7 linked regions of the Homo sapiens genome follow. Changing the gene in region 4 together with the main gene of any one other region gives a genetic interaction. Each region holds a gene or a part of one and is shown on either strand. Other genes may lie near its edges. The genes, in order: ANXA9, TNFRSF10D, CCNDBP1, ETAA1, ETV1, CHORDC1 and PPM1B.

Region 1 (5,190 bases), on a different chromosome or scaffold from region 4:
CAGTGAGCCAACATAATGCCACTGCACTCCAGCCTGGGCAACAGAGAGAGACTCCGCCTCAAAAAAAAAAATGTTAGTATATTTAATGAAATATTTGGGTCATACTTGTACCAACAAATGATTCCTCATTTACGTGAAATTCTGATTAAGCTGCATGTCCTGTATATTTATTTATTTAATCTAATACCCCTACTTTACAGGGCACTTTTCTCTGCCACATGCAATTACACAGATTACTTTTTTTTTTTTTTTTTTTTTTTGAGACGGAGTCTCACTCTGTCGCCCAGGCTGTGGAGTGCAGTGGCGCCATCTCAGCTCACTGCAACCTCTGCCTCCCAGGTTCAAGTGATTCTCCTGCCTCAGCCTCCCGAGTAGCTGGGATTACAGGCATGCGCCGCCATGCCCGGCTAATTTTTTGTATTTTTAGTAGAGACGGGGTTTCACTGTGTAAGCCAAGGCTGGTCTCGATCTCCTGCCTCATGATCCACCCGCCTCGGCCTCACAAAGTGCTGGGATTACAGGCATGAGCCACCGTGCCTGGCCACATTACCTTATTTATTTATTTATTTATTTATTTATTTTTATGAGTTCAATAGTTTTTGGGGACAAGGTGGTGTTTGGTTACATGGATAAGTTCTTTAGTGGACACATTACTTCATTTAATCATCCCAGGAAACCTGTCCTCGGAGGCCCCAGCATGTCCCACAGCCTCCGTCTCTCTCAATCCTCCCATTTAGAGAGCTGAAAGGACTAGCGAAGCTTACAGAACATAGGTGGCAGAGCTGGATATTGAACCCTCATTCTCCAGTTCTGACACAGGTGCATGTTTTCCTTTTAACAGGAGAGAAAAGTGAGGAGCAGTGATTACCGCCACAGAAATATCCTTTCATGGCGTGTCCTCCGGCATGGTCTACTCAGTGTGGTGGAGCCACTGCAGGTCCCTCCTCCAGGGATGTAGGAATGCCAGTGAAGGCCTTCCTGAGTTGGGAGAGAGGCAGAGGAGTGAGTGGAGGCAGGGCTGTAGCTTCTGTGCCCCGCCCCTACCCAGGCTCTCCAGGGAGGCAGGAAAGAGGCTGTGTTTAGACCTGAGGGAGCCAGCTGTGAGGCTGGAGCAGTTGCTGCATGGCGGGGCGGGGGCTCCACAGGGCTGTTCACCTGCTGCTCTGTGCAGAGACAGCCTCAAGTCCAGCTGCTGGGGTTGCATCACCTGCAGCTAAAACAGCCACAGGGCCCAGGCTGCCAAAAGGCAACAGAAGCAATCTAAGAAACCAGGCAAGGGAGCCTCCCCCATCTCCCTGTTGCCTTTTGGGAGCATAGAGCTTCCCTCTGAAGGTAACACCCTTTGCATTTTTCTCTCTTGACTCTGTTCATCAACTTCCACTCCCAAATACTTGTGCCCTTCCTTCTCCACAGATATACACAATCCCTGGGCACTCTCCACCTAGGTCAGCTGGCTCTAGTAAGGCAGCAGTCAAGGGAGTTTCTGGGCTGGGACCCCCTCTGGGGTGCAGGCTGGGGTGCCCTGCTGGTATGTGCCCCAACAGGTTTTTCCCTATCAGCCTTGAAATCAGCCTGCAGCCTGTCTGACCTGCCCCCCAGGGAGCTGGAGCCAGAGGCAGAGCCAGGTCAGAAGCTGGGGCAGAGCCAGGTCAGAAGCTGGACTTTGAGACTAGGTCTCTGTGGTCCCACCTGGACCCACAGGGAAGGCAGTGCATAAAAGCCTCCTGTGTTTGAGGCTGAGCCGCTGAGAGGCTGAGTGGAGTTCACTCACATGGATTGAGGCCCAGTTCCTGGGAGAAGAGATGCTGGGCAGGAAGGTGTCTGCATGTGGGACTCTGTACAGCCCGGTCCTCTCCCACGTCTGGGAGGGGCCAGAGTCAGACAACTGCTGGGTTCGTCCCTAAGAGAGGTCATCTGACTGGCTGTTCAGCCTAGGCTGCACACACCCCCACTTTCCTCTACCAGGCCACACCGGAGGCAGTGCTCACACAGGCAAGCTACCAGGCCACAACAACGACACCCACCTCACCTCTGGCACCTCTGAGTAAGTACTGGGCCCACGGCCCCATGCCAGGAGGGCTTGTTGATTGCTTGGGGGAGGGAAAAATGAGTTTTCCTTTTCCAACATGAGAGTGCCTCCTTTCTGTCCAGGCATCCACGTACTTGCAAGAACTCTTGCTCACATCAGCTAAGAGATTGCACCTGCTGACCTAGAGATTCCGGCCTGTGCTCCTGTGCTGCTGAGCAGGTAGGCAGCTGTACAGGCAGGAATTGAGGGTTGCTTGTCAGCTGGGGCTGCCGGTGGGGGAAGATGCTATTTCGAGTTGTCTTCCACTCTGCGTGGTTAATCCTGCCACCTCACCTCAGCTCCCCTGCACTGCCCAGGAGACCCCAGCCAGGCCCAGGAAGGAGGGCCATAGACCTCAGAAGGGAGGCATCTACCGCGGACCAAGGCCTGAGGAGCTTTGGTGCTGACCCTGGCATCAGGGAGGGTTGGCGCCTGGTCCAGGAGCATTCCGCATCAATCCCCACTTCCTAAAGGAGTGGGGAGAGGTGGGGAAGGTGGGGGCTCCCCTCTTACCTCACCATTTCAGCTCCATTTCTGGCTCCAAGCCTAAGCAGGTTGATCTTTTTTTCTGCAGCAAGGAAAGGAACAGGTGACTGGAACCCAGGGTCCAGGGTCTCGGGGGGGTCATAAGGAGTCCCTGAAGGGCCAGGAAATTCAGCTCTGTGGGCTCCTGTTTCCTTCCCCAGGGCAACCAGTAGCACCATGTCTGTGACTGGCGGGAAGATGGCACCGTCCCTCACCCAGGAGATCCTCAGCCACCTGGGCCTGGCCAGCAAGGTAGGGGCTGTTGGGATTTTAGAGATCACTTTTAGTATCTCAGCTCGGGCTGTGAGAGGATGGGAGGCAGGAAAGTGGAGGACAGGCCCTGAGGTTATGCTGAGGAGGTGTAGGCAGCCTGGCCCTGGCCCTTGCCAACTACCCTGTGCTCCCACAGACTGCAGCGTGGGGGACCCTGGGCACCCTCAGGACCTTCTTGAACTTCAGCGTGGACAAGGATGCGCAGAGGCTACTGAGGGCCATTACTGGCCAAGGTGAGCCCCTTTCCCCCGGCACTTGAGACTGCCTTTTAGAGCCAATCTGTAGACCAAGGAGGAGCCAGGAAGGAGGAACTAGTGATGTTGGAGAAATGTTTGTGGAATGCCTTCATTCTTGTATGTCAGGCGCCACAGTAGGTGTGTCAAACCCATTCTCACAACACCCCTGTGAGGCAAGGCTTATTATTTCCATTTTCCAGATGAGGAAACTGGGGCTCAGGGAGATTAAGAGGCTTGCCCAAGGTCACTCAGCTCATGACGGAGGTGGTATTCTCATCTAGGTCAGCCGATCCCCCCAAGTCGTATTTTTTTTTAACCACCACACCAGGCCACCTTTGCCTTGGTCTGGGTCAGATTTGCATGCTGTTTTGACATTTTATTTGCAACTTCTTTTGAGATAAAATGGAAGTGGGGGTGATATAGCCCCTGCTCCTTTCCTTCCCAGCCCTCTCCTGGAGCGCCTTCCCTCCTCCAAGGAGTAGGAACATCCCACTATGTAAAGACCCTGCTCACAGCACAGCCCTCATCTCGGTTCAGGCGTGGACCGCAGTGCCATTGTGGACGTGCTGACCAACCGGAGCAGAGAGCAAAGGCAGCTCATCTCACGAAACTTCCAGGAGCGCACCCAACAGGTGAGGCCATGCTGACCTCCCACAGCAGTGGACTGGGGTGAGAAACCCCCTGGAGGACTCGAGAGACAGCAACAGCCGCTGAGGCCAGCCCCTGCTTCCTGGCTAAACAGGGCCTGAGATGAAAACCAGCCAAATCTTCCCAAACCTCCCCACACTTCTGGGGCCCTTCCCCTCACCCCCGTCCCTCTGCTGTGAGGACCATTTATTGTAGGACCTGATGAAGTCTCTACAGGCAGCACTTTCCGGCAACCTGGAGAGGATTGTGATGGCTCTGCTGCAGCCCACAGCCCAGTTTGACGCCCAGGAATTGAGGACAGCTCTGAAGGTAGCAGGAGGGGAGACTTGCTGGGGTGTCTGGGGAAGGGAGAAGGCTGTCAGCCTTGCTTTTGCAAGACGAGAGTCCCCCTCTCGTCGTCCCATATTGTTTCTTAGAAGGAGAAGCAGCCAGCGTCTGCCCCTCTGTCTGCCATCCTAATGACACGGCCAGTCTGAGAGTAGACTCCCAATTTCTTGTAGGCCTCAGATTCTGCTGTGGACGTGGCCATTGAAATTCTTGCCACTCGAACCCCACCCCAGCTGCAGGAGTGCCTGGCAGTCTACAAACACAGTAAGAATATAGAGGGAGGGGTCCCAGATGCTGGAGAAGGGGCTGTAGGACAGGCCACTCCTCTCCTGTACTCCCCATAGGTGAGCTATCTGGCAACCTGGCTGCCTAAGTTCTATTCCCTTGGGGTCTTTCCTCTTGCCCCCACCAGTGCCTCAGTCTCTCAGGGGAGAGACCCAGATGTGATCATTAAAAAAAGAGAAGCAGGCCAGGTACGGTGACTCATGCCTGTCACCCCAACACTTTGGGAGGCTGAGGTGGGCAGGTCACTTGAGCCCAGGAGTTCAAGACCAGTCACAGGCAATAAAGGAAAACCTCATCTGTGCTAAAAATTCAAAAAAACCAGCTGGTCATGGTGGTGTGCGCCTGTGGTCCCAGCTACTCAGGAGTTTGAGGTGGGAGGATCACCCCAGCTTGGGAAGTTGAGGCTGCAGTGAGCTGAGATCGTGCCACTGCCACTGCACACCAGCCTGGGTGACAGGAGTGAGAGCATGTCTCTCTCTCTCTCTCTCTCTCTCACACACACACACACACACACACACACACAAATAAAGAGAGAGAAGCAATGATTAACCATCTTAATCTGGAGCTCCAAGGCAGATTCCAAAGTGACAGTCCCAAAGGTACTCATGTCACCTTCCCAGCCCCTTGCCATCCCTGCCATCACACCACATTCCAAGCTGAACCCAGCCATGCTGCAGCCTGAGGAAAAGGTGGGAATCTGCCCTCTGAGTCATGGGTGTCACCTTTCATGTCCCTGATGGCTGGCCTTGCTTGGCTACAAGTGTCTCACCCACTAATTTGTGGCTTTTTCCCATCCTCATCTTACCACCCCTTCCCCCCACCCCTACC
Region 2 (4,479 bases), on a different chromosome or scaffold from region 4:
ACCACTCCCATTCAACATAGTACTGGAAGTCCTAGTCAGAGCACTCAGGCAAGAGAAAGAAAGAAAAGGCATCCAGATATGAAATGAAGAAGTGAAAACTCTTCATGGACGATATGATTCTATACCTTGGAAACCCTAAATACTCCACCAAAAGGCCCCTGGAACTAATAAACGACTTCAGCAAAATTTCAGGATACAAAATCAATGTATAAAAATCAGTAGCACCGGGCACCGTGGCTCACACCTGTAATCCCAGCACTTTGGGAGGCCGAGGCAGGCGGATCACGATGTCAAGAGTTCAAGACCAGCACGACCAACATGGTGAAACCCCGTCTCTACTAAAGAATACAAAAATTAACGGGGCGTAGCTGGGTACGGTGGCTCACGCCTGTAATCTCAGCACTTTGGGAGGCCAAGGAGGGCGGATCACAAGGTCAGGAGATCGAGACCATCCTGGCTAACACGGTGAAACCCCACCTCTACTAAAAATACAAAAAACTAACCAGGCGTGGCAGTGTGCGCCTGTAATCCCAGCTGCTGGGGAGGCTGAGGCAGGAGAATGGCGTGAACCTGGGAGGTGGAGCTTGCAGTGAGCTGAGATCGCGCCACTGCACTCCAGCCTGGGTGACAGAGCAAGACTCTGTCTCAAAAAGAAAAAAAATCAGTAGCATATCTATATACCAATAATGTTCAGGCTGAGGACCAAATCAATAACACAATCCCATTTACAACAGACACACACACACACACACACACACACACACACACACACACACAATACCTAGAAATACCTCTACCCAAGGATGTGAAAGATCTCTAAGAGAATTACAAAACACTGCTAAAAGAAATCATAGATAACATGAACAAATGGAAAAACATTCCATGCTCATGGATTGGAAGAATTAATATGGCTAAAATGGGCATACTGCTGAAATCAATCTACAGATTTAATACTACTCCTATCAAATTACCAATGTCATTTTCCACAGAATTGGAAAAAATTATTGGAAGTAACTGAATCACGTGGACTGGTTTTTCCAGTTCTGTTCTTGTGATAGTGAATAAGACTCACAAGAGCTGATGGTTTTATAAAGAGCAGTCCCCTGCACACGCTCTCTTGCCTGTCGCCATGTAAGATGTGCCTTTGCTCATCTTTCACCTCAGGCCATGATTGTGAGGCCTCCCCAGCCATGTGGAACTGTGAGTCCATTAAACCTCTTTTTCTTTATAAATTACCCAGTCTCAAGTATTTCTTCATAGCAGTATGAAAATGGAATAATACAACTCCCCATTCAACAGCTGATGCTTCGGATATTTGGCTAGCCATATGCAGAACAACGAAAACTAGACCCCTACTTTTCACCATATACACAAATTAACTCAAGGTAGATTAAAAGTTTAAAGGTAAGACCATGAACTATAAGAATTCTAGAAGAAAACCTAGAAAACACCCCTCTGGACATCAGCCATGGCAAAGAATTTATGATTAAGTCCTCAAAAGCAATGCAATAAAAACAAAAATTGTCAAGTGGCATCTAATTGAACTAAAGACCTTCTGCACAGCAGAAGAAACTCTCCACAGGCCGGGTGTGGGGGCTCACACTTATAATACCAGCACTTTGAGAGGACGAGGCAGGCAGATCACCTGAGGTTAGGAGTTCGAGACCAGCCTGACCAACAAGACAAAACCCCATCTCTACTAAAAATACAAAAATTAGCTGGGCATGGTGGCACGTGCCTGCAATCCCAGCAACTAGGGGGGCTGAGGAGGGAGAATCACTTGAACCCGGGAGGCGGAGGTTGCAGTGAGCTGAGATCATGCCACTGAATTCCAGCCTAGGTGACAGAGCGAGAGTACATCTCAAAAAAAAAAAAAAGTATCAACAGAGTAACAGACAACCTACAGAATGGGAGAAAATATTTACAAACTATGCATCTGACAAAGGTCTAATATTCAGGAGCCATATGCAACTTAAATGAACACACAGAAAACAACCCCATTAAAAATGGGCAAAAGACATGAACACACATGTCTCAAAAGAAGACATACAAGTGGCCAACAAACATATGAAAAAATGCTCATCATCATGAATCATCAGAGAAATGCAAATCAAAACTACAGTGGGATACCATCTCATACAGTGAGAATGGCGATTATTAAAAAGCCAGTAACAGTAAATGCTGGCGAGACTATGAAGAAAAAGGATCATTTATATACTTTTGGTGGGAATGTAAATTAGTTCAGCCAGTATGGAAAGGAGTTTGGAGATTTCTCAAAGAATTTTAAAACAACTACTATTTAACACAGCAAACCCACTACTGGGTATACATAGAAAAGAAAACAAATCTGCTGGGCGCGGTGGCTCACACCTGTAATCCCAGCACTTTGGGAGGCCGAGGTGGATGGATCACGAGGTCAGGAATTCAAGACCAGCCTGCCCAAGACGGTGAAACCCCGTCTCTACTAAAAATACAAAAAATTAGCCGGGTATGGTGGCACATGCCTGTAATCCCAGCTACTCTGGAGGCTGAGGCAGAGAACTGCTTAAACCTGGAGGGGCGGAGGTTGCAGTGAGCCGAGATTGTGCCACTGCACTCCAGCCTGGGTGACAGAGCGAGACTCCCTCTCAAAAAAAAAAAGGGAAAACAAATCATTCTACCAAAAGACACCACTATCCATAATAGCAGTGACATGGAATCAACCTAGGTTCCCATCAACAGTGGATTGGATGAAGACAATGTGGCATATATACACCATAGGTTACCACACAGCCATAAAAAAGAATGAAATCATATTGTTTGCAGCCACATGGATGAAGCTGGAGGCCATCATCCTAAGTGAATTAATGTAGGAACGCAAAACCAAATACTGCGTGTTCTCATTTATAAGTAGTAGCTAAACATCAGGTACTTACGACCATAAAGATGGCAACAATAGACACTGGGGACTACCAGGGCGGGGAGGGAGCGAGAGGAGGAAGGGGTGAAAAACTAACTGTTGGATACTGTGCCCACAACCTGGATAAAATCATTCATACCTCAAATTTCAGCATCAAACAAACTTACATATGTACCCCCTGAATCAAAATAAATTTGAAAAAGGAAAAATAAAAAATGAAAAAAAGTTTCCTTGGCAGTGTATTATATGTAAAGTAATCCCTGTAATGTAAACAAAATGTACATACGCTTGTATGAATATACATGGCATATGCATAAAGATTTCTACAAAGAATCACAAGAAATTATCTGTTGTATTCACCTGAATGAAGAAGGGCTGGGGGCTGGAGGAAGTGTTAGGGGACTACCACTATGACTCAGCACCTTTGTTTTTTTTTTGTTTTTGTTTTTGTTTTGAGATGGAGTCTGACTCTGTAGCCCAGGCTGGAGTGCAGTGGCGTGATCTCGGCTCACTGCAGGCTCCGCCTCACGGGTTCACGCCATTCTCCTGCCTCAGCCTCCCGAGTAGCTGGGACTACAGGCACCCGCTACCACGCCCGGCTAATTTTTTGTATTTTTAGTAGAGGTGGGGTTTCACCATGTTGGCCAGGATGGTCTCCATCTCTTGACCTTGTGATCCACCCTCCTCGGCCTCCCAAAGTGCTGGGATTACAGGCATGAGCCACGGCGCCCGGCCGACTGAGCACCTTTCTATAGTGTGGCAGATGTGTGGCTCTGCATTTACCACTTTCAAAAAATGTGCAGCGCGGCCAGGTGCAGTGGCTTATGCCTGTAATCCCACCACTTTGGGAGGCCAAGGTGAGAGGATGACTTGAGGCCAGGAGTTTGAGACCAGCCTGGGCAACATAGCAAGATCAGATCTCTACAAATTACAAAACAAAGGTGCAATGCGATTCAGCAGCGTGGAGTAATTGTTGATATTTTTTGTTTATTTCCTTACCTTTTTATACTTCCCTTCATTAAAAAAAATGGGGTATAGTTATAGGAAAGGAAGAAAATGGGTGGAAAGTGAACCTTGTCTAGGTAAGTATTTGACAAGTGATCAAAGAGGAGCCAAAAGCAGAGAAAAATAGGAGAATCAGTTCCTAAACAGGCGTGGAGGAAGGAGACAGTGACTCACAACAATTCAGGGAATTCCTCACTTCACACAGCATCACAAAAGAAATGGCACCTACGTTCCACTGGTGTATGCTACAAACCAAATCATTCTTTAAAAGTCCACAAAAAATTAGGTAGGATCATCTTATTTTATCCTGAAGGAAAGAACTTAAAAAAAAACAAATGTGTGTCCAGATTTCACACCTACTCAATGTCATATCAAAACTAGTGAATCGATGTGAATAACTGGATGTGTGTGTTTCTGTAATACAAAAGCACTTCTACACACTGACTCAGAAATCCTACTTCTTCCCAGAAGCCTCCTTACATACTTGATCAGAAATCTGGACAAAGATTTACTGTGAAATATGTTCAATGTAGTAAGAATTTTGAAGAACATTTAAAACTTCCGCTGTTTCAAGC
Region 3 (4,479 bases), on a different chromosome or scaffold from region 4:
TATTCCAGAATGTTTTGAGAGTAAATTGCAGACAGCAATGACATTTCACCCCTAAATACTTCAGTATGTATCTCCTGAAGTACTCTTATTCCTACTCTTATTATCACATCCAAGAAATTTGACATTGAATATAATAGTATTATCTAATATTCAGATTTCCCCAGTTGTCTGTATCTAAAATGTCATATAAATTCAGGGTTCTGTCAAGGTCCCACATTGCATTTAATTGTCATCTCTTTAGTCTCTTGAAATCTAGAACAGTTCCTATCCTTTGTAGTCTTTTTTAATCAACATTTTAAAAAGAAACCAGGACAGTTGTCTTGTAAAATATCCAACAACCTGGATTCACGTGATTGTTAGTTCTCATTTTTGCAAGAATATCATATAATTAAGTGTTTTGTACATCTCATTTTATCATATTAGGGAGGCACATGATGTTGGTTTGCCTCATTATTGGTGGTACTAAATTTGATCACTTAAAGTGGTGCTCACTTTAGTAAAGGTATATTTTACTCTAATTTTAGCTTCCACTGATGAAGGCTGCCTGCCTATATTAGTTATTAAACTGATGGTTTCACATCCTCACATTTTTGACTGAATTGATCATGCACCCTACTATGAACCAAGGGAATTTCCCCCCCAGCTTCCTAGTGAAATGGGGTATGGTTGTTTCAATAAAGACTGGTTGAACTCATTCTGTATTGGTTGCCCAGTTGCCCAATTTTAAAAACTGACAGGCATTTCTGGGACAGTTTCTCACTGTTGACATCCATAGTTGTGTACTAGAAACAACCTGGCTGCGTTTTTTTGTTAATGATTACTTTTGTTTTCTGCTCTTAGTGTGGATGATTTGGCTCTGAGCATATATCCACCTATGTGTCACCTGACCGTGCGAATCAATGTAAGTACTGGCTTTGAGGGAATAGCTACAGAACAAATGGGCAGAATTTCACTAATCACTAGTATTTCCTGTAAGCTATAGGGTACATATTTATTAGTCACATTTGGATGGAAGTACAACAGTAATGTCACAGTTCTTGCATGCGTTTGGGGTTGATAAATATTCACTGAAGTTGAATTATAATAGCCATGAGCTTTGGTAGTTCTCTCTTCCATAATCACCTGGGTAATCATTCAGAAAAGCCCAAAGGCCTTAGAAAATGATGCTTTAAGGCTGGGCGCGGTAGCTCACACCTGTAATCCCAGCACTCCAGGAGGCGGAGGTCAGGAGTTGAGACCAGCCTGGCCAACATGGCGAAACCTTGTCTCTACTAAGAATACAAAAATTAGCCGGGCATCATGCACCTATAATCCCAGCTACTTGGAAGGCTTAAGCAGGAGAATCGCTTGAAGCCGGGAAGTGGAGGTTGCAGTGAGCCGACATCGCGCCACTGCACTCCAGCCTGAGCAACAGAGCAAGACTCTGTCTCAAAAAAAAAAAAAAAAAAAAAAAAAAAAAAAAAGCTTCTTTGAAAAGAAAGTCTTAATTACACGGTAATTTAGGAACTTCTCAACTTGAAGTCACAAGTTTCTAATTTCTAGACTAGGCAGCAATTAGATTGAACTTCAGCTGTTCATGAAGTAGCTGGCTGAGGTCACATGTTTCTGATTTCTAGACAAGGCAGAAATAAGTGTTCCAGAAACATACTCTGTTCTAATACAAACACATTGTGTGATTTAACTATGGAGAGTCAACTTTCTTATAAAAATCTGATTTTATTGTATTCTTTGAGGTTCTGTGCCCTTTACTAGAGAGAGTTCTGTTCTCTCTAATGTTATTGGAAAGAGCAGTAAAACTGCCAAATGGCTTATATTTTACAATTGAATGTATCAATTCTAGTAATATTTGATAAATTGGATAATGGAAATTAGATTCATCAGATGTGTCTTCATGATGTATAAACACCTTGAAGTAGAATAGGATCCTTTTGGGCATTAACATTTTTTTGGCATTAACTTTTAAAAAATTGACTTCCTAAGAAATAAACATTTTTAGCAATATGCCTAGTCAGCTATCCCAAACATAGTATCTGCTCTAGCAATTTTAAAATGTGTACTGCATATGCATCTTATATGTATTGATATTTTATATTAAACGTCTCCATCTTATCCTTATATTGGTGTTCTTAAAATTCTTAATGCGCTTTTTTTTTTTTTTTTTTTTTTTTTTTTTTAAAGGAACCTTAGTCATTTCTGCTTTATATTTTGAGCTATCAGCATTTGGGACCAATTCAGGTTACATTTTCCTTTTTCTGTCCTTTTTTAAATTGAAAATATTTTAGATCTAAAAAATCTTATTAAAATGTTATAGCAATAGTATTAATAAGATCTTGCTAAATAGAAAAGAACCCGTAATCCTGCCACCCTAACCTAATCAGCATTTTAAATTTTGCATACTTCCTTCAGGTCCTTTTTCTAAATAATTTTTTTATTACTTGGGTCTTTAAAAATATTTGAACTCACCTTTTTATGGTAGGGCTCAGGGTGAATAACTTCTGTGTTTCTTTTCTAGTCTGCGAAACTTGTATCTGTTTTAAAGAAGGCACTTGAAATTACAAAGTAAGTATGAAGACTTCTCAGATAGCTTTTTGTGAGTAAAACGGAACTGCTGTCCAGACGTTCTCAACTCCCTAGCTCCCATTTCAAGGAGTGGGAAAGGGTGGGTGTGGGATTTTCTTTCAGCTTCAGTTGTGGGGCAGCTGAGATTCTGCAAAGAAGCTTCCCTTTAAAAAAATTTTAGTTTTCCCTGTGCTCCCTCCTGAGGATAGGTTTTCCCTTGACATCCTAATAAGTTTAACTTACTTCTTTCCTATTCTATTCACAGAGCAAGTCATGTGACCCCTCAGCCAGAAGATAGTTGGATCCCTTTACTTATTAATGCCATTGATCATTGCATGAATAGAATCAAGGAGCTCACTCAGAGTGAACTTGAATTATGACTTTTCAGGCTCATTTGTACTCTCTTCCCCTCTCATCGTCATGGTCAGGCTCTGATACCTGCTTTTAAAATGGAGCTAGAATGCTTGCTGGATTGAAAGGGAGTGCCTATCTATATTTAGCAAGAGACACTATTACCAAAGATTGTTGGTTAGGCCAGATTGACACCTATTTATAAACCATATGCGTATATTTTTCTGTGCTATATATGAAAAATAATTGCATGATTTCTCATTCCTGAGTCATTTCTCAGAGATTCCTAGGAAAGCTGCCTTATTCTCTTTTTGCAGTAAAGTATGTTGTTTTCATTGTAAAGATGTTGATGGTCTCAATAAAATGCTAACTTGCCAGTGATTAAATGAGTGCCCTTCCAAAGTTTCTTTTTACCAGAAATACAGTGGATTGAGACTAGAACATTGCTTTCATTTGGGTTTGTAGGTTTAAAAATCTGATTCTAATCAGAAGTATATTTAGAACAAAACACTTTATTTATAAAAGATGACTCCAAAATTCATCTTAGTATTTCACCATGTTATATATTATTATCAGCAAGTCCTTCTGAATATTATCACAGATTACTCCATGTCTCTAAAATATATTGGCATTGAGCTCATTTGTTAGGTTTGCCCACCTTATTGAACAGATTTATTTTCCTTATACATACTTGTGTTGTCCTTGGTTACGTGTGTCCCCAAATGTAAATACCAAATTTTTATAAATCAAAAATTTTTTAGTGTGTAAGAGATTTTATGTAATTTTAAGGGCCTTTTCAGTTCATCCTTTTGCAAAACCATCACCACTTAATTATACTTTTGCATCAGTCTAGAAGACTGCATATTGGAAAGCAGTGTAAATCTATAATGATGTATATTCTGGTGAGCTGAATAGGGCATTATGCATGTCCTACAGGTCTCCGCCACCTCTCATGCCCATCATCTTCCTTTTGTAGGTGTAATTCATAACATATGCCTTTCTGCTGTCTTTAGGTATAATCAGCAACAGCAGTCATTCTTTGAGTGACTAATGTATACTTGGGGTTGGGGTTGAAATTCCTTAAGCCAAATGAGTTTTAGCTTACTGTTTTGAAGTGCCATTTTGTATTGTTAACAAGTGTCATGAAGGGAAGGAACTAAAATCAAACTGACAGAGTGTCAAGGCAACAAAATAACATAAACAAAATAATAACATTGTACAACAGTCTAGTTCTTTTATCCTTTCATATAGAGCCTATTTTTTATATACTTTTATATTTCTCTACTGGACCAAATTCATGTTATTAACATCAGACTTTAATTGTGGGATACTTAATGAATATAGAACTCTAATATAAAGACTTACCTCTAGCTGAATTATTCTCTCAGGTCCTGTATTGTATAACTTCGTTCAGTCATGTTTGGATCTTTAAGGATAATGATCAGGGAAAGCACTGATCAATGTAATTTTTTTTTTTTTTTTTTTTTTTTTGAGATGGAGTCTTGCTCTGTCCCCCAAGCTGGAGTGCAGTGGCACACTCTCGGCTCACTGCAACCTCCGCCTCCCAGG
Region 4 (3,607 bases):
TTACCATTGCAAACATTGATTTATTAAATAAAGTAGAAGTCCAGGCTTTATAAAAGTCAGCATTACATTTCTCACAGAGAAATCAAGAAAAAAAATTTCCTATCAATCACAGATAGTTATCAGCAGTCTTCGTGAAGTCTTCCAACTAATATTTCATTAAAGAAATGAAGTGGGAGCTGCATTTACAGATGAGGCTCGTGCTTTAGCCATTCTCCGAACCAGTGCTTCTTGTCTTTTTCTCTGAATTTCTTCAGGAGAACACTTTCTATTTTTCTCTTCTTCCTCTAAAAATTCAACAAAAGATGAGTTTTACTTTTATAGCCTATAAAGTCATTCAATATGTGCTTTAATTTTTGCTTTTTTTAATCACCCAGATTTGCCATATTAGTTGGCTATTAAATCAAACTAAACTACTGAATATAAAATTCTAAGTACATAATACAGATATAATGCTCCAGTTCAAAAGAAAATCAAGCACTGATGGATCTGTCTCTATTTGATACATTCTTTTCACAGTGTGATAAAATTCAGTTTGATAGAAAACTGACTACCCACCAAATAATTCTTGTGGACAATGACATCTAATTTATATGACCCACGAATAAATATATCTTTAAAAAGGATACATTGGGATTTAAAATGTTATGTAAACTTTAATTGGAAAATAGTCAAAATATAAGGAATTAAATTAGTTATCAATCTCAAACAGTGTATATTTACATAAGATGTTATATTAATATTCACATCTACTTTTCCCTATAGAGCTATAAAATTTTCATTTCATCCACTGAGGAAATATATTTTAGAGTGATAAAATGAAATCTGTCATGTCAAACTGGTTACCTGTGATTCACTGTCAGAAATTATATTTTTATTTGGAGGATGCATTTTGGAGAAACTTTAAAATAATCTCAATTAACTTAGTAAGTTGAGGCTTTGTATTAGAAATCACTTTCTCATTTAAATGATATTTTAAGTTTAAGACTATCACCCTAATACATATTTAAGTATATCATTTATTCTGACATTTAGAAAAAGATACACAATTTATGAGACATTTCTCTTGTTAACTAACAGAGGCATTTTCAAAATATATAATCTGCCTCCCTTTCCTTTCTTGGTATAATCAGAAATGGGAGGGGGTATTCAGGCTAAGAAATACATATTTTAAATAAGTTTCCCAGATGATTTTGATGGCTTTTATTTCCTAAGCTATTTACCTAACAGACTGTAGATATTTTTTCCTAAAGAGAGACACCAGAAGATACTTTCTAATTAGCTTGACTAATTATCTAATACTTTTAGTCTCAAAGCTGAGAAACACAACAAACTCAGACTACACATCCAAAGACTTTACACTGAATTTGACTGTGTGGAAAGAAAACAGGTTAATAATCTGTAACAGCAGAAAACATAACTTCCTAAAGTTGGTCTTACAATTTGCTTGGCAATATTATAGAAAATAATTTCAAATGATAATCAGGTCACACCATGAAAATTTGATTTAGGGACTCATCCATTTTTCCCATCAGTCTTTCCTTTAACTCAATCTATAATAAAAATACACAATGAAGTCTTAAAATATTGTAAAGTACTAAGCAAAAGCTGCTCTTCTTAATCTTGATCTTACAGTGCAAGGGTCAGTAATTTTTTTTTTTCCTGTAAAGAAAGAGTCAGAAAGCAAGAATGTTAACCTTTGAGTATCTTGTTGCAACTGCTCACCTGTACCACTGTAGCAAAAATAGTTATGGATAATGTATAAATAACTGATGAGCTGTATTCAAATAAAACCTGTTTATGGACAATGAAATCTGGATTTCATATAATTTTCAAATGTCATGAAATATTATTCTCCTTTTAATTTTTTTCCAACCATTTAAAATGTAAAAATCATTTTTAGTGTGCTGGCTATACATAAACAAGCTGCAGGCTGGATTTGGACAGATCATAGTTTGCCAACTCCTGCCTGAAATAAATGTGGGAGTTAAGTGAGTTTTGTTTCAGAGATACTTCCCTGGAGAGCAGCTTGCTACATACCAAAGTAAAAGGAAGTAGAAACAATAGAAAACATCAACAAAGTTAATAGTAATTAAGAGATTCAGTACTATCAATAAGTTTAAAGAAAATATTGATAAGGTAAGCTAAAACGCAGATTATCCATAAAAAATGCAGATAGATTGGTAGATAGGAGTTTTGGGAAAACTCAAATACTCCAGGAGGTTTAGTCTTTTATAGAATTATAACTATAGTTGACCCTTGAACAACATGGGCTTGAACTGGCAAGTCCACTCATTTGTAGGTTGTTTTCTGCATCTGACACCCCTGAGACAGCAAGACCAACTCCTACTCTTCTTCCTTCTCGGCCTACTAGACATGAAGATCATGAGGATGAAGACCTTTATGATGATCCACTTTCACTTAATGAATAGTAAATATTATTTTCTCTTCCTTATTTTCTTAATAACACTTTTCCAGCTTATTGTAAGAATACAGTATATAATACATATAAGAGCATACAAAATATGTATTAATTAATTATGTTATCGGAAAGGTTTCTGGTCAACAGCAGGCTATTAGCAGTTAAGTTTTTAGGGGATCAAAAGTTATACACAGACTTTCGACTGCAAATCAGATCAGCGCCTCTAACCCCCACACTGTTCAAGGGTCAACTCTATCTGTAAATAAAGTCATGCTAGGAACATGCTTGATTTAGTTACAATATGCTCACTTTAATACAAATTTAAATACTTAAAATTATTATAGATTGAGAACAATTTTTAATATTTCAAAATATCTAGTTTGGGCTATCATGTAAAGCAAGCTTGTCCAACCCGCAGCCCGCAAGCTACCCGCAGCCCAGGATGGCTTTGAATGCAGCCCAACACAAATTCATAAACTTTTTTACAACATTATGAGATTCTTTTGTGATTTTTTTTTTTTTTTTTTTTAGTTCATCAGCTGTTGTTAGTGTCAGTGTATCTTATGTGTGATCCAAGATAATTCTTCCAATGTGGCCCAGGGAAGCCAAAAGATTGGACACCCTTGGGTGTAGAGAATTATTTACTGTAAGTTTTGATAAGATAAATTGGTATAACTGCTTCGGATAGAAATTTGGTGGTATCCATCAAATTTTAAAACTTCCTCTTGTAGCAATTTTTTAGGAATTAACAGATACAATTATACAAGCATGCGGAAATTTATGCAGAAGGATATTTACTGGAGTATTGTTTGTAATTGCAAAAGACTGCAACCAACCCAAACTTCCATCACAGAGAAACAGTTAAATTATGATACATCCACCATATATATCACATAGTCATTAACAGGACTAAAATAAATTTATATGTACTAATAGGAAAAGACAGCTATAATATATTAAGGCAAAAGCAAGTTGCCAAATAGTGGGTATACAGATTTATTAATATTTAAATAGATCTATAGGTATATATATATGCATACACATATATACGTACATACACACACACATATCTTTTTATATTCATAGAAAATGCTACATCATACCAACTATTAATAGTGGTTTTCCGTAAGGGATGGTTATCAGAAAGGAGAAACAGAAGACTTAACTTTTTCCTTTAAATTATTCTAT
Region 5 (4,479 bases), on a different chromosome or scaffold from region 4:
GGGTAACAACTTCAAAGTTAGCAAACTGCAAATCTTAATTCTGTGACATGCTAGTTGTGCAACTTTGGTTAAGTTTCTGAACCTCTTAGAACTGAATTTTACTTATCAGTTTACTAGTGAAAATACAGTTTTTTGGTGAGGATTAAATGAAACAGTCTAAACGCAATGCCAGCTACTCAAGAAATGTTCCTTATTTTCTTCTTTCCAGTCCTCTACCCACCAACCCTTGTCTTTCAAGTCATCCACAAAAAAGTACATGTCATTACAACGCTCAGTTTAATATCTTTACTTCTAATGAAGTCTACTAGAGAGGCAACGAAACAGCTAAAATCTGTACATTAGCATTCTCTCAGCTATTAACACAACATATTTTTTTGACACTGCAGAAAAAAATGTTCTAAAAGATTCATAAATTACAAGGCGAAGGGTGTGCTTTCAAGTAAGTCTTCATATCAAAAAAATTACAAGTGTTTTAAATATATATTTAATAAATAACAGCAAGTACACAGATTCAAATCCTGCACATTTTTCCCATTATATCATTGTTTTGGTTTTCCCTCAGAATTAACAGCTAAACAGATATAACTATTGAGATGCAAATATATCAACCACAACAATTACTGGGCTTTTAAAAAGCCAACATTTATAAGAATCTAATAAAAATATAATATCCCTTTACAGGAAAAGTTAAAAATAGCTGGTGAGTAACAAAAGTATACTTGTAACTGAATATGATGGTATGAATGTTCTAAAGGTCTTTTGTTTGTTTTTGTAGCATCGTAAGCAGATTTGCAACTTCCTAATATATGTCACTGCAAGAGCAGCACAGACTCACTGATGGGTGTGTGATGTGTGCTGGAATATGTGTGAGGAAAAAAGGGCCAAATTTTAGGAGTAGAATAATCTAGAAGTTATACCTCGCAAATATACAGAAAATAGCTGCACGATAACAATCTGTAAAGAGTAAGAATAAGAATTCCTATTTCTGTTCTAACTCCTTAACATACTGAATAAATACTTCACACTTATTCCTGAACATATTACAGAATTTTAACAAAAAACATATGACTCACATTTTCACAGAAGCTAATCTTAAGAAACTGAATAGACCAAACGAAGCAGCATGCTACTTAAATAGACAAAGGCTTAAGTATACCTCTAATTTCAAGTTAGAGTAAACGGAAAGCAGTTAACTAAAAACACAAGTTGGATCTAGGCAAGGAAAATATGACAAAGTATTGCCACACTTGTATCATACATTTCCTTTTTTCTTCAATTCAGGGGAATACTGTGAAGGAGCAAACTGCAGCTGCCTGAAAACTTGCAGCAAGCCATACCAACTCCAAAGTTGAAAATTAACAATAGAGGTCAGCCTAAAAAAGCAATGTTTTTTCCACTACTATCTATTATAAACTGTGCTGGATATAATCACCTTTGGGGAATGAAAATGTTTCCCCACACTATGTAATTAAAGACGAAGGGGAAGAGGAGGAAAGGAGAAGGGGAGAAAGTATATACCAAAAGACCAATAAAATGCTTTCAAGGAGATTAAGCATGTGGATTTTATTGGTAATAGCTGGAGCGGCTCTATCAGTTCATTGCACGTTAATAGACCAGTTGCCATCAAGTCTCAGGATGTCGGCTTTAAAAGGGCAGTATCTGCACTCTCAGCTATTTGTTTTACCTAGATTATTATCCAAAGTTGTTTTACTGTTTTCTGTCTTTTTGCTACGTATCAATGCATATTATCAGAAAGAAATTCATAAAAATATTAATCATGACCTATATGTCACAAACTCACCAATTCTCCTTTTTAATTTTAATACTTTTCTTAACTAATATTGCCTTAGAGATGGGTAATTTTAAATATAGCTTGCCTTTATGTTATGCTTATTTTTAACTTTCAAATGAAATAATAATCATTACTTAAGAAAAAGTAAGCGATGAAAAAGTTTCCAAGGTTGGCTGCAGGGAAGCGAAAACCCTCCTATTCTTACAAACTATGTGCCTGTTGGGTTTTTTTTTAAAGCTAAGGAAAAAGTGGAAGAATTACAAATAAAACAAACGTCAAGTATAAAAGGGGTTAATATTTAATTAAAACCAGTTCTATCCACTGTAACAATGACCTGGAGCCAAACAAGGCGGAAGATGTATGAGTCATTCTTTCTGCCCGTGAATGAGACAGCTGATCTCCTCAGCAATTCCTCAAGACAAGCAGGCAGAACTGGAGTTCTGCCTCCATTCACAAAAACACAGTCCAGCATATGAGCCATGTGGCCCAACCACAATCTTTTCATGTCACACCCTTCCAGGGAGCTAAAGCAAGTAAACTTGGACTTGCAATATAAACACACCAATTTTATTGCTCTGTCTCAGAGCTCAGATCCATTAAAGGAACACATTTAAATAAATGACGTTTACAAAGTTACATACATACATACATACATACATACATACATATATATATATACACACACACAAATACATACATGCATCCTGCTTTACAGAGTAACTTGTTACAGAAACTTGCATGTATAAAACTAAGGAAGAAAAAAGGAAAAGACAGAAAGATGCAAAGAAGGTTTCAAGAAAGGGAAAAGAAAAACCATTACGGAAATGCCTTATTTTTCTTTTCTATTATCCAACTATTTTTATCATAAGAATACTGTAGATTGTTTGCTGAACTTTGTAGCATTTCTCTTTGAATCAAAGAGTTAGAAACAAATTTCTCATGAGAAATTTAAATTTTATTTCAAATAAGAAGTAAAAAAAGAAAAATCCACCTTCCTACAGTGGTATGCTGTTTAATCCTAAATTGAAGCTACAGGCCATGGAACAAAATAATCATGAGTCCACTAAGCTTGGTTTTATACCACATCCACTTTTAACATTAAAATGATTGTACAAATGTAAAAGCATTAATTATGCAGAAGTATAAACATATTTAAACATACAAAAAGGAGGCAACTTTCCAATGACAAAACACCTTTAATACTTGATCAAGGCATTATTTCCATATTTCTATATTCTTACTGTAACAGTAAAGTTTTAGTCGTTGTGTCAAATCAGCTTCAATTCCTAACTAAAACTGACCTGCAGTAACTTGAAAACTTAAGGGAAGCTCAGAGCCAACTAGCCGTTGTTTCTAGCCAAATATTTTCTCTAATGCTACAGAGGTCTGACTCTATTATTATTTTTTATTATAACATTATACACAAATCAAAGGGAATAAAGTTATACTACAAAATGTAACAAACTGCACATTTCCTATAACTGAAATAGAAAAGCTTAGCAATATTTTATTTATTAGGATCCTCTGGAAAAACTACACTATACTACACCAAATCCTATTTTTCTATTTTTAAAAAAAATTTCTATTTTGTAAATAAAACATGGATGAAAAAACATTTATGCAATTCCAATGAATGTTTAGAAATAAAATATACTTTATCTGCTGTCTTTAAGTCAAACTCAAATGGGAAGTCTTTCTCTCATATTTTAGATTATTTTCTAGCACATCAAAAAGAGGGGTGATAGCCCATCCTCTCCCCGCCCACACACACATGAAATTATTGTTGTTCAATTATAAGAGATTATATGGAGTTCTGTAATTCAATGCTTAATTCTAAATTCATGTTTTATGTAAACCACATAAAATAATGTCGTTTTTAAAGCCTTTAATCCTTATTGCACCAAGTGGGGGAAAATAATTCATGAGCACATAACCAATTTTATGTTCCATTAAAAAAAAGTAGGATTTCTGAAAAATAAAAATGAGTGTATTATGACTACTGTATATTGTGGATGACATTACACATAGTAAGTAACAATAGCACATATTACTTATGATTTTGAATATAAATTTACCATCAGCCATTAAAGCGAATTGAGGGGAAAGTAATGACATCTCTGCTTTTAAGTTGACCTGACTGTTGTTTGAAGGTCACATAAAACCAAAAGGAAAAAACCCTTATTCGTATGATGTAATAAGCTTTGCTGTAGAAAGGTTGTTCTTGCAGATAAAACTCCTACTCGAAGTGTGGAGGCAGCACTAAACTTGACTCAATACAAAACCACTGGAAAACATTTTACCCTGAAGACAGAGAATATTGTTGATGAAAGTGAACCTGAAAGAACATCTAGACCGGAAACAAAATAACAGTCAAGAGAGCAGCTACACATTTACATCAGATATATACTGAAAATTATTATTTCCCTTTAAGTTGTGTTAGTAGGTGAGCTTTAAGAAGCAAATTTGGAAGAATACAATCCTGTCTTAATTTTTTACATCTTTCTATTTTTGTTCTGGATACACAAGAGGTTCCATTTTAACTATGACTTTCAGGTTGTTAAGAATAAGACATCACCATGATGTTGATAGAATTGATATTTAAACTCATTATTTCATGGGATCAAATAATTGCAATTGCCTTTCTGTCAGTAGCAGTCTAATTTAAAAGACAAAGAATCAATAAAGAA
Region 6 (4,479 bases), on a different chromosome or scaffold from region 4:
TTGTGGAATTTTATTTTTCCTAGACTGCCATTTCTTCTGATATTTTTGTTTTACTGTGTCTTTTTCTTTTTTTCCCTATGCTGTTTTCCTCTTAGCTCTTAAAGGTAACCTTTGGCTGTTTTCTCTCATTCAGTTCATTCATTGGTTTTCTCAAATGTCACCTCTACGCCGATGGCTCTTACAACATATTTCTATTTATGTGTCTCATTGGCAACATCAAACCAGTTTCTAGTGTGTACCGTTTATTCCAAAAGTAGTCTGCCTCTCAACTTTACTGCTCCTAGTAATGATACTACTGACTTTCTGATCATTTGGTCCATTGCCCGTTTTTTCTCTTACCGCATTGTTAATCACTCCAAGTCTTAATGAATTCACTTTGAAGTATTTTTGCTTCTCTCTCTTTTGCAGTTGTAGTGTTTATTGTGGTCTCTATTTTATAACCATTTCTTAAAGTCCTAGACTTTCCAAGATTATTGGATTTCACAGTCCAGAAGATTTCAGACAAAATGCGTATACATCAATACAGGGATACTAGTTGACCAAGTAAGAAGTTAAACATTGCATTGACAAAAGAAATACTATTTTAATATTAGAAGGGGCATATTCAGAGAAAAGGACAATCTTGCTGAAAAAAGACAACTAGCAACCTTATATTCACATAACTTAAATTTATCTTTCCTTTTCTCATTGTACTGAAGACTAGCATAGAATCCAGATTGGCATTTGGGAACAGCTGGCCTGTATTGTATTTTACATGTGTGTATCACAGTATCTGACATAATTTAGTACATGATTAAGACAGTAAAACTTTTTCTCTTATAGAATAACTTTTCTGTTGACTATATTATTGATGCTATTTAAACCCTATATTTAAGGTTGTAGTAATTGATCTACATCTCAATTCGGAGTAAAAGATAATTAAATTTCAAATTAAAGGAAAATTTGAATTATAGGATATTTGAAATTACCTTTAAAGAAAAAGAACCTACAGGTGCATATAATGAGAAAAATCACTACCATATTTTTATGCAGTCTTTTGAAAATCAGCGAGGTCCAGGCGGATGTGTGCAAAGTTGCATCTTAATCTGAATTTAGTCCCAAATCTTAATCTGAAGTTCCAAGTTTTGAGATTTTGCATTTTTGTTTCCCTATGCTCTATAAACATTGGAATTTAGAGATAATTATTAAAGCCATTTTTTGGTAAACTACTTGATAGTTTGTTCAAAAATCACAAATACTAATAGTTTCTCTGTCTTTATGCTTCTCACTGAAAAGATCACCTTCAAAGGCTTAATAGTGCTTTAGCTGCTGTGTTAATTAATCTTTGTTGTTCTGAAAATAGAATGCTTATTGTGAAATTAAAATTAACTAAAGATAGTTACTATCTTTAACTTAATAGATTTTAAAAGTAAAATACCTATACTTATTTTGAATATTCTTTAAATATGATAGTTTTAGGAATTATAACATGTTTTTCTTCTAAAAAAAAAGCAGACACGATTGTTGAAAAGAGAAACAGTTTTTGTTTTATAAAGGTGCTTCCCTTGATGATAGGGCATAGCACAAATCACTTTAACATTGGTTAATTGGCTTTTTAAAAATCAAAGATTAATATTCATTTTACTTGATTAGGTGAATTATATGCAACACTGAAATTTTGCACTCTATACGCAAGTTACTGCAGGATTCAAGTAGATAAGTGCAAGTAGAGTGTTTTAGTGGGTCGTGTTTCTCATGCAAATAGAGTTTTTAGTTTCCTTCTCTTGTTTTTCATAGGGTTGGTCTTGCTGTAAGAGAAGAACAACTGATTTTTCTGATTTCTTAAGCATTGTAGTAAGTACTAATTATTTTTTCTAGATTATCTTCCTAAAAATACATGTTATAGAAAGCTTCAGATTTGAGGAGTCTGATTTCTGATATAGATTGATTGGTCTTCATCAACTTGCAGATAACACCTTTCAAAAAGCAGCTCATCTCCCTTCCACAGCTTGTAAAATAAAGAATCTGTTTTGGAAATTAACGTTTTAAGGTATCAGTTACCTGCTTATCATTTTAGGTTTGTTCTTTCTGTTATGTTGAAAGAACATCAAGGAGAAAGTGGTAAGCAACAATTTAAAGCCTTTTCAGTTAGGAACGATAAAGTTTTATCTAAGATGCTGTTGAAATATTTTACATACCACTTTTATATAAAACCACTTTATATACCACTAAGAAAACTAAAGCTACTAACAAACTGATAATGCTATTGATTGTATCATTTCAGAGGTGTTAAAGAGTATGTATAATTCAGTAGAATGTAGTAGAAAAGTAGCTAACGTTTGTTGAATGTTATCACCTGCCAAATGTGCCAGGCATTTTATTATTTAACTCTCTCAGAAAATATCTTACCTGACATTACCTCCATTTTACAAATGAGGAGATGGAGGTTTAAAAAGATTATCTTGCTTAAGGTCATATAACTAATAAGTATGTTGAGAACTAGGTCTCAAATTGAGGCCTTTCGAGTAACAGATTTTTCTGTATAACTATTTTTTACAGTTCTTTGTGAGATTCTCCAGAATTCTTCTGTAAACAAGAGGTTTATGCCATATTTTTAATAGAATAAGTAGATGTTTATGAAGTGTAATTCAAAGACTTTTTAAAAAAGCCGTCATTCAGAGATTCAGCAAATATGGCAAATTTGGAGTTCTGTTTTTAATTTCTTAAAATCAATGTATTGAAACTGGAGAAAACATGAAATAGAATCACTATCAATAAAGAACTGAAAAGATAATATTTCTATCATGAAATGTAAAATAGATAGCTCTTAATGAATTATCTTTCACTAACAGGGCTGTACAAAAGGTAGACATAATAGTGAGAAGCCACCTGAGCCAGTCAAACCTGAAGTCAAGACTACTGAGAAGAAGGAGCTATGTGAATTAAAACCCAAATTTCAGGAACACATCATTCAAGCCCCTAAGCCAGTAGAAGCAATAAAAAGACCAAGGTATACTTTATACAGTTACATATTTTTGTCACACTTGAATAGTAGCACTTGTGCATGGTACTTTCCTTTATGATTTAGCATGATACCATTTGTAGCTACTATGTAGGCCACCAAGCTTTGAACCATTTGGTTTCTCCCTTAAATCTGCCTTAAATTTTTATTTCTCTTCAACTTGAGAGCATGTACACAATATAACTACATAACAGATTTGCATATTGTACTGTCATAATTACAGGGACATGTATCATCAGGGTAGGGAAGTCACATTTTTCTTGTGCCTTAGAGTGCATCTTTTTCACTGTGGCATGGTAAAATTCTTTGAAGCAGTTTTCCTTTTCATGGCATGAGTTTGAAGTAGAAAATAATGCAGAGGCCTAATCATCCATCTTTACTTTCAGATGCCTGAAAACTACCGTTAATCTCATTACTACTGGTCAATTTTTAATGCATTTGATTTAGATGACATATTTGTGAAAGTAGTCTTAAAAAAGCGTTTGCTCATTGTGCAATAGAGTTGTACAGATTCTTCATACTTGCCTTCTGATAACCAGACTCTGTATTCCCACACATGTATATTGAGTACCTTTGTTGAACCAGGTCTTCTTCGTGCTACACTTGAGTACTAAATTGTTTTAGAAGCAAACTACAGGACTTAAAAAAAGGTGATTTTTTTTTTTTTTTTTGGCTGCAAGTAGGCACTTATTGTAATTTTTATTCATGCTATGAACTCATGATTTTCCCTTTATTCTCCTTTGATCCTACTTAAATAAATTTATAGAGTATTGAATAATATAGAACCAAGATAAGAACCCTAAGAGACTTTAGATGTTTATTTGTTCATTAGCACTCTGAGTACAGATTATTGCTAAGGAAACTACTCAGGATGATTTTATTCTCTCTCCATCTTCATAGTTAGAGGAGACCATTGAATGCTTTGGCCAGTTTAGCAGTTAGAAAAATAATTGGGAAAAGACAAAACTTCAGTCATGGCTCATTCTTAATCTCTTTAGTAATATAATACAGTCTGTACTATAATAGTATGAGTTAATTTTTTCTTTAAATGATGGGCTGTTATTTTACTTAAAGGGCAGTGAGAGGCCAGGCACTGTGGCTCAAGCCCATAATCCAGCACTTTGAGAAGCCTAGGAGGGAGGATCCTTTGAGCCTAGGAGTTTGAGAACCAATCTGAAAGAGATCCTGTCTCTCCAAAAAAAATAAATTAGCTGGGTTTGGTGGTGTGCTCATGTAGTTGCAGCTACTCAGGCTGAGGCAGGAGGATCTTGAGATTGACTTTTTGAAAAAAAAGGACAAAGGCAGTGAGATGAGAAAAACTAAATATTTTATCCTAAATTCATTTGGTGGTATTATAACAATTATGAGGATATCAGTTTTTACATACTTTTCTTTTTTTTAAGAAGAAAAGTCCCTCTCTTACCCAGGCTGTAATGCAGTGGCATTATAGCTCACTGCAGCCTTTAACTCCTGGGCTC
Region 7 (4,479 bases), about 23 Mb from region 4:
GATTTGCTGTAAGTGTAAAATACACAATGGATTTTAAATATTTAATTTATTAGTACTTTTTCACACTGCAGATAAAGACATACCCAAGACTGTGCAATTTACAAAAGAAAGAGAGGTTTAATGGACTTTCAGTTCTATGTGGCCAGGGAGGCCTCATGATCACTGCTGAAGGCAAGGAGAAGCAGGTCACATCTTACATAGATGGCAGCAGGCAAAGAGAGAGCTTGTGTAGGGAAGCTCTCCATTATAAAACCATCAGATCTCATGAGACTTACTCATTATCATGAGAACAGCACAGGAAAGACCTGTCCCCATGATTCAATTACCTCCCATGGGGTCCCTCTCAGAACACCTGGGAATTCAAGATGAGACTTGGGTGGGGACACAGCCCAATCACACCATTTAATATTTTTTAAAAGAATGCAAAATATCTAATTAACTTCATTGTTTATATATTGAATCATTTTGGAAATACTGGATTAAATAAAATACATTACTAAAATTAACTTTGCCTATGTCTTTTTTATTAATGTGGCTACTAGAAAAATTTAAATTACCTTACATTTATATAGGACAGCACTAAATTAAAACAACAGAAACTTTTGGCTGGGCATGGTGGCTCATGCCTGTAATCCCAGCACTTTGGGAGGCCATGGCGGGAGGATCACCTGAGGTCAGGAGTTCAGACCACCCTGGCCAACATGGTGAAACCCCATCTCTACTAAAAATACAAAAAAATTAGCTGGGTGTGGTGGCAGGTGCCTGTAATCCCAGCTACTTCAGGAGGCTGAAACAGGAGTATCGCTTGAACCCAGGAAGTGGAGGTTGCAATGAGCCAAGATTGCATCATTGCACTCCAGCCTGGGTGACAAGAGCGAAACTCTGTCTAAAAAAAAAAATATATATATATATATATATATACATATATAAAATACACCACTGGTAGGAGTATAAATTAGTATAGCAACATTGGAGAGAATTTTGGAAATATCTAGTTAGGGCTATAAGATAAGGATGGCCTACAGTTCAGCCATTTTACTCCCTAGAGAAATTCTCGCATATATATATGGCATGTAAATGGTTTTAGACCATTGATTAAAATTACAAAAATAATCCAAATGTCCTTCCAAAAAAGACTAGACAAAATGTGTTCTAGCTGCCTGTGGTGGCTCACGCCTGTAATCACAACACTTTAGGAGGCCAAAGGAGGTGGATCACTTGAGCTCAGGGATTAGAGGCCAGCCTGGGCAGCATGGTGAAACCTCATCTCTACAAAAAAAACACAAAAATTAGCCAGATGTGTTGGTGCACGCCTGTAGTTCCAGGTATTTGGGAGGCTGAGGTGGGAGGATCACTGGAGCCTGGGAGGGCAAGGCTGCAGTGAGCCAAGATTGAGCCACTGCACTCTTGCCTGAGCAACAGAGCCGGACTGTCTTATTAAAAAAAAAAAAAAAAAAAGAACTGTTCTAATCATACAATGGAATACTATGCAATATATATGCAATACTATGGAAAAAAGGGACTAGAACAAAAAAAGAACTGCAAAAATATTAAGTGACAAGAACAAATTGTAAAAAAAAAAAAAATTCTGTATATGGTCATGTACATACACCTCTTAAAACAGTACTATATGCTATTTAGAAATACATACATGTAGGCCGGGCGCGGTGGCTCATGTCTGTAATCCCAGCACTTTGGGAGGCCGAGGCGGGCAGATCTTGAGGTCAGGAGTTCGAGACCAGCCTGGCCAACATGGTGAGACCCCTGTCTCTACTAAAAATACAAAAATTAGCTGAGCGTGGTGGCACGTGCCTGTAATCTCAGCTACTCACGAGGCTGAGACAGGAGAATTACTTAAAACCTGAAGGCGGAGGCTGCAGTGAGCCGAGATCATGCCACTACACTCCAGCCTGGGCAACAAGAGCAAAACTCCGTCTCAAAAAAAAAAAAAAAAAGGTTATTTCACTTTCACATTGCAATTCCAAACACTCCAGAACAGATGAATAGAAACAAACTCAATTTCCTTAAGTTTAGGACTAGCAACCACCAAAGACTTAATAAAATGTTAGATTATATAAACAAAACCAGTTACAAGAGATAATTTTTTTAAATTCAAGTAAGGTTGTTTTTGGTTATTTTTAAATCTAAGATAGATGGCCAAATGTTGAACAACTTAATGAATCTGGTCTGAATTACAGTACTAAATTTAATATATTCCAAAATTTCAAGTTCTCTTGCATATCAGCATTTTGATAAAGTAACAGAATTACAAAAATACATTAAAAATGAAACTAGGCCGGGCACGGTGGCTCATGCCTGTAATCCCAGCACTTTGGAAGGCTGAGGCGGGCAGATCACCTGAGGTCAGGAGTTTGAGACCAGCTTGGCCAACATGGTGAAACCCCGTCTCTACGAAAAATACAAAATTAGCTGGGCGTGGTGCCGCAGGCCTGTAATCCCAGCTACTTGGGAGGCTGAGGCAGGAGAATCGCTTGAACTGGGAGGTGGCGGCTGCAATGAGCCGAGATTGCACCACTGCACCCCAGCCAGTTGGTTGATTTGCTTTAAAATTAAAAAAATCAATCTTGATTCACTTTAGCAATGAAGATCAAATGAAACTGACTCATAAATGAAAGCACAAGACCACCAAGCATTAAAATAAGAACAAAAAGATGAAAGATCTTTTATGCTTAAGTTTGCAATGTTTGTATAAACTGAAGAAGAGGCCTCTTTACCAAACTGGTTCAGTAGGAAAGCAATAGAAAGAACAGAAAGCAAAAATTAAGCACCTGCTTCACACATCTAAGTGCAATACGCCCATCTCACATGCAGAAAAAACAAAGGCACGACGTTAAGTAATACAACAAAGCTATGGAAGGAGAAGCAGTGATAAATATATAGACCAAGTTGTGCACAATAAACCAAGAGACAAATTGGCTCCATTAGCCATCTTTGCTAAGAGCACAAAAGTAGCCATTACAAATCAGTACCAGGCACTATTGGTCAACCACTAATCCTTCAGCTATACTCACGTAAGAACAGAAAGCTTTTTAAACATAAATGACAACATATATTTTATAGGTATATCCCAATTATTTAAATCAGACTTAAAAAATCCTGTTCACCCTTCTCCTATTGTTCCACCTTTACTCCCATCCTCCTTTCCAGGAACTCATCTATCCAAGGATGTACAGTAAATGGAAACACCTGAAGGCCCCAAATTTCCCTCATGTCTGTCTAATGCAGGGATCTCTTTTTCTCTCTTTGGGTCATCTTTTAATCTTAAACCAGGCAGGGCATGGTGACTCACGCCTGTAATCCCAGCACTTGGGGAGGCCGAGGCAGGTGGATCATGAGGTCAGGAGTTCCAGACCAGCATGACCAACATAGTGAAACCCCATCTCTACTAAAAGTACAAAAATTAGCCAGGTGTGGTGGTGCATGCCTGTGATCCCAGCTACTCGGGAGACTGAGGCAGGAGAATTGTCTGAACCTGGGAGGCGGAGGTTGCAGTGAGCCGAGATCATACCACTGCACTCCAGCCTGGGTGACAGAGTGAGACTCCGTCTCAAAAAAAAAAAAAAAAAATCTCAAACCAATGTCTTTCTCTAAGGCACAACAATATTTCCTCTTTCCTCTTTTCAGTCTAGTTTTTATCCAATTACAGAAAACCTCTTCCTTTCCTTTTGTTAAAAATAGTAAAGCTCTAATCACAGCTTTTAAGTTTAGTGTACAAAACACACACACCCCAAATCTTCCACTCAAGTTTTTAAGCCAGCCACATAAGGAGTTCAGCTGTAATGTAAACTGTGAGTTGCTGGTTAACAGAATGCAAGATCGTCAACGACAAGGATTTGGGATTTTGTCTGTTTTGTTCAGATACTGGCATGAAATGGGGGCCTTTGCACACAGAAGGCACTCAGTGAACATAAGAATTGGCTGGAGGGTTACAGACTAAATACTATTAGACTGTTCTGAATTCTTTACTTCTCAGTGGGTTGGTAGCTCAGAGTAAATAAAAGCAGAAAGCCTCCCAAAGCTCAACAAAATCTCCTATATAATCTTAACATTTGGAGTGCTTTGAATTAATTATGTTCCCCCACCCCCACTTTTGTTTTTTTTGAGACGGAGTCTCACTTTTGCCCAGGCTGGAATGCAGTGGCGCGATTTCAGCTGGGTTGAACCTCCACCTCCTGGGTTCAAGCGATTCTCCTGTCTCAGCCTCCTGAGTAGCTAGGATTACAGGCACATGCCGCCACACCCAGCTAATTTTCTGTATTTTAGTAGAGATGGGGTTTCACCGTGCTGCCAGGCTGGTCTCGAACTCCTGAGCTCAGACAATCCGCCCACCTCGGCCTCCCAAAGTGCTAGGATTATAGGCGTGAGCCACCAGGCCCAGTCATGTCCTCTTTTTAAGGGACTAAGAAAGGCCACCTGTGTTCAACAGAAAATGCCATTTCCCCACCTCAGAGATAAATG

The links.
Region 1: changes in ETAA1 (region 4) and ANXA9 are lethal when combined (synthetic lethality), as found in Homo sapiens cells (one large-scale study listed by BioGRID).
Region 2: changes in ETAA1 (region 4) and TNFRSF10D are lethal when combined (synthetic lethality), as found in Homo sapiens cells (one large-scale study listed by BioGRID).
Region 3: changes in ETAA1 (region 4) and CCNDBP1 are lethal when combined (synthetic lethality), as found in Homo sapiens cells (one large-scale study listed by BioGRID).
Region 5: changes in ETAA1 (region 4) and ETV1 are lethal when combined (synthetic lethality), as found in Homo sapiens cells (one large-scale study listed by BioGRID).
Region 6: changes in ETAA1 (region 4) and CHORDC1 are lethal when combined (synthetic lethality), as found in Homo sapiens cells (one large-scale study listed by BioGRID).
Region 7: changes in ETAA1 (region 4) and PPM1B are lethal when combined (synthetic lethality), as found in Homo sapiens cells (one large-scale study listed by BioGRID).

Annotation. Positions count from the first base shown.
Region 1 is NC_000001.11:150,980,336-150,985,525, forward strand, and holds the start of ANXA9 (annexin A9), read left to right. Parts: upstream 1-1,956; 5' UTR 1,957-2,044; intron 2,045-2,151; 5' UTR 2,152-2,248; intron 2,249-2,754; 5' UTR 2,755-2,770; coding exon 2,771-2,845; intron 2,846-3,002; coding exon 3,003-3,099; intron 3,100-3,639; coding exon 3,640-3,734; intron 3,735-3,945; coding exon 3,946-4,059; intron 4,060-4,250; coding exon 4,251-4,341; intron 4,342-5,190. UniProt on the Homo sapiens protein: Low affinity receptor for acetylcholine known to be targeted by disease-causing pemphigus vulgaris antibodies in keratinocytes.
Region 2 is NC_000008.11:23,139,642-23,144,120, forward strand, and holds part of TNFRSF10D (tumor necrosis factor receptor superfamily member 10D precursor), read right to left. Parts: intron 1-4,479. UniProt on the Homo sapiens protein: Receptor for the cytotoxic ligand TRAIL. Contains a truncated death domain and hence is not capable of inducing apoptosis but protects against TRAIL-mediated apoptosis. Reports are contradictory with regards to its ability to induce the NF-kappa-B pathway.
Region 3 is NC_000015.10:43,191,903-43,196,381, forward strand, and holds part of CCNDBP1 (cyclin-D1-binding protein 1), read left to right. Parts: intron 1-840; coding exon 841-901; intron 902-2,512; coding exon 2,513-2,559; intron 2,560-2,824; coding exon 2,825-2,939; 3' UTR 2,940-4,479. UniProt on the Homo sapiens protein: May negatively regulate cell cycle progression. May act at least in part via inhibition of the cyclin-D1/CDK4 complex, thereby preventing phosphorylation of RB1 and blocking E2F-dependent transcription.
Region 4 is NC_000002.12:67,406,588-67,410,194, reverse strand, and holds part of ETAA1 (ewing's tumor-associated antigen 1), read right to left. Parts: intron 285-3,607; coding exon 157-284; 3' UTR 1-156. UniProt on the Homo sapiens protein: Replication stress response protein that accumulates at DNA damage sites and promotes replication fork progression and integrity.
Region 5 is NC_000007.14:13,979,076-13,983,554, forward strand, and holds part of ETV1 (ETS translocation variant 1), read right to left. Parts: intron 1-4,479. UniProt on the Homo sapiens protein: Transcriptional activator that binds to DNA sequences containing the consensus pentanucleotide 5'-CGGA[AT]-3'. Required for olfactory dopaminergic neuron differentiation; may directly activate expression of tyrosine hydroxylase (TH).
Region 6 is NC_000011.10:90,212,528-90,217,006, reverse strand, and holds part of CHORDC1 (cysteine and histidine-rich domain-containing protein 1), read left to right. Parts: intron 1-1,776; coding exon 1,777-1,833; intron 1,834-2,831; coding exon 2,832-2,989; intron 2,990-3,586; exon of another isoform or gene 3,587-3,651; intron 3,652-4,479. UniProt on the Homo sapiens protein: Regulates centrosome duplication, probably by inhibiting the kinase activity of ROCK2. Proposed to act as co-chaperone for HSP90. May play a role in the regulation of NOD1 via a HSP90 chaperone complex. In vitro, has intrinsic chaperone activity.
Region 7 is NC_000002.12:44,174,895-44,179,373, reverse strand, and holds part of PPM1B (protein phosphatase 1B), read right to left. Parts: intron 1-4,479.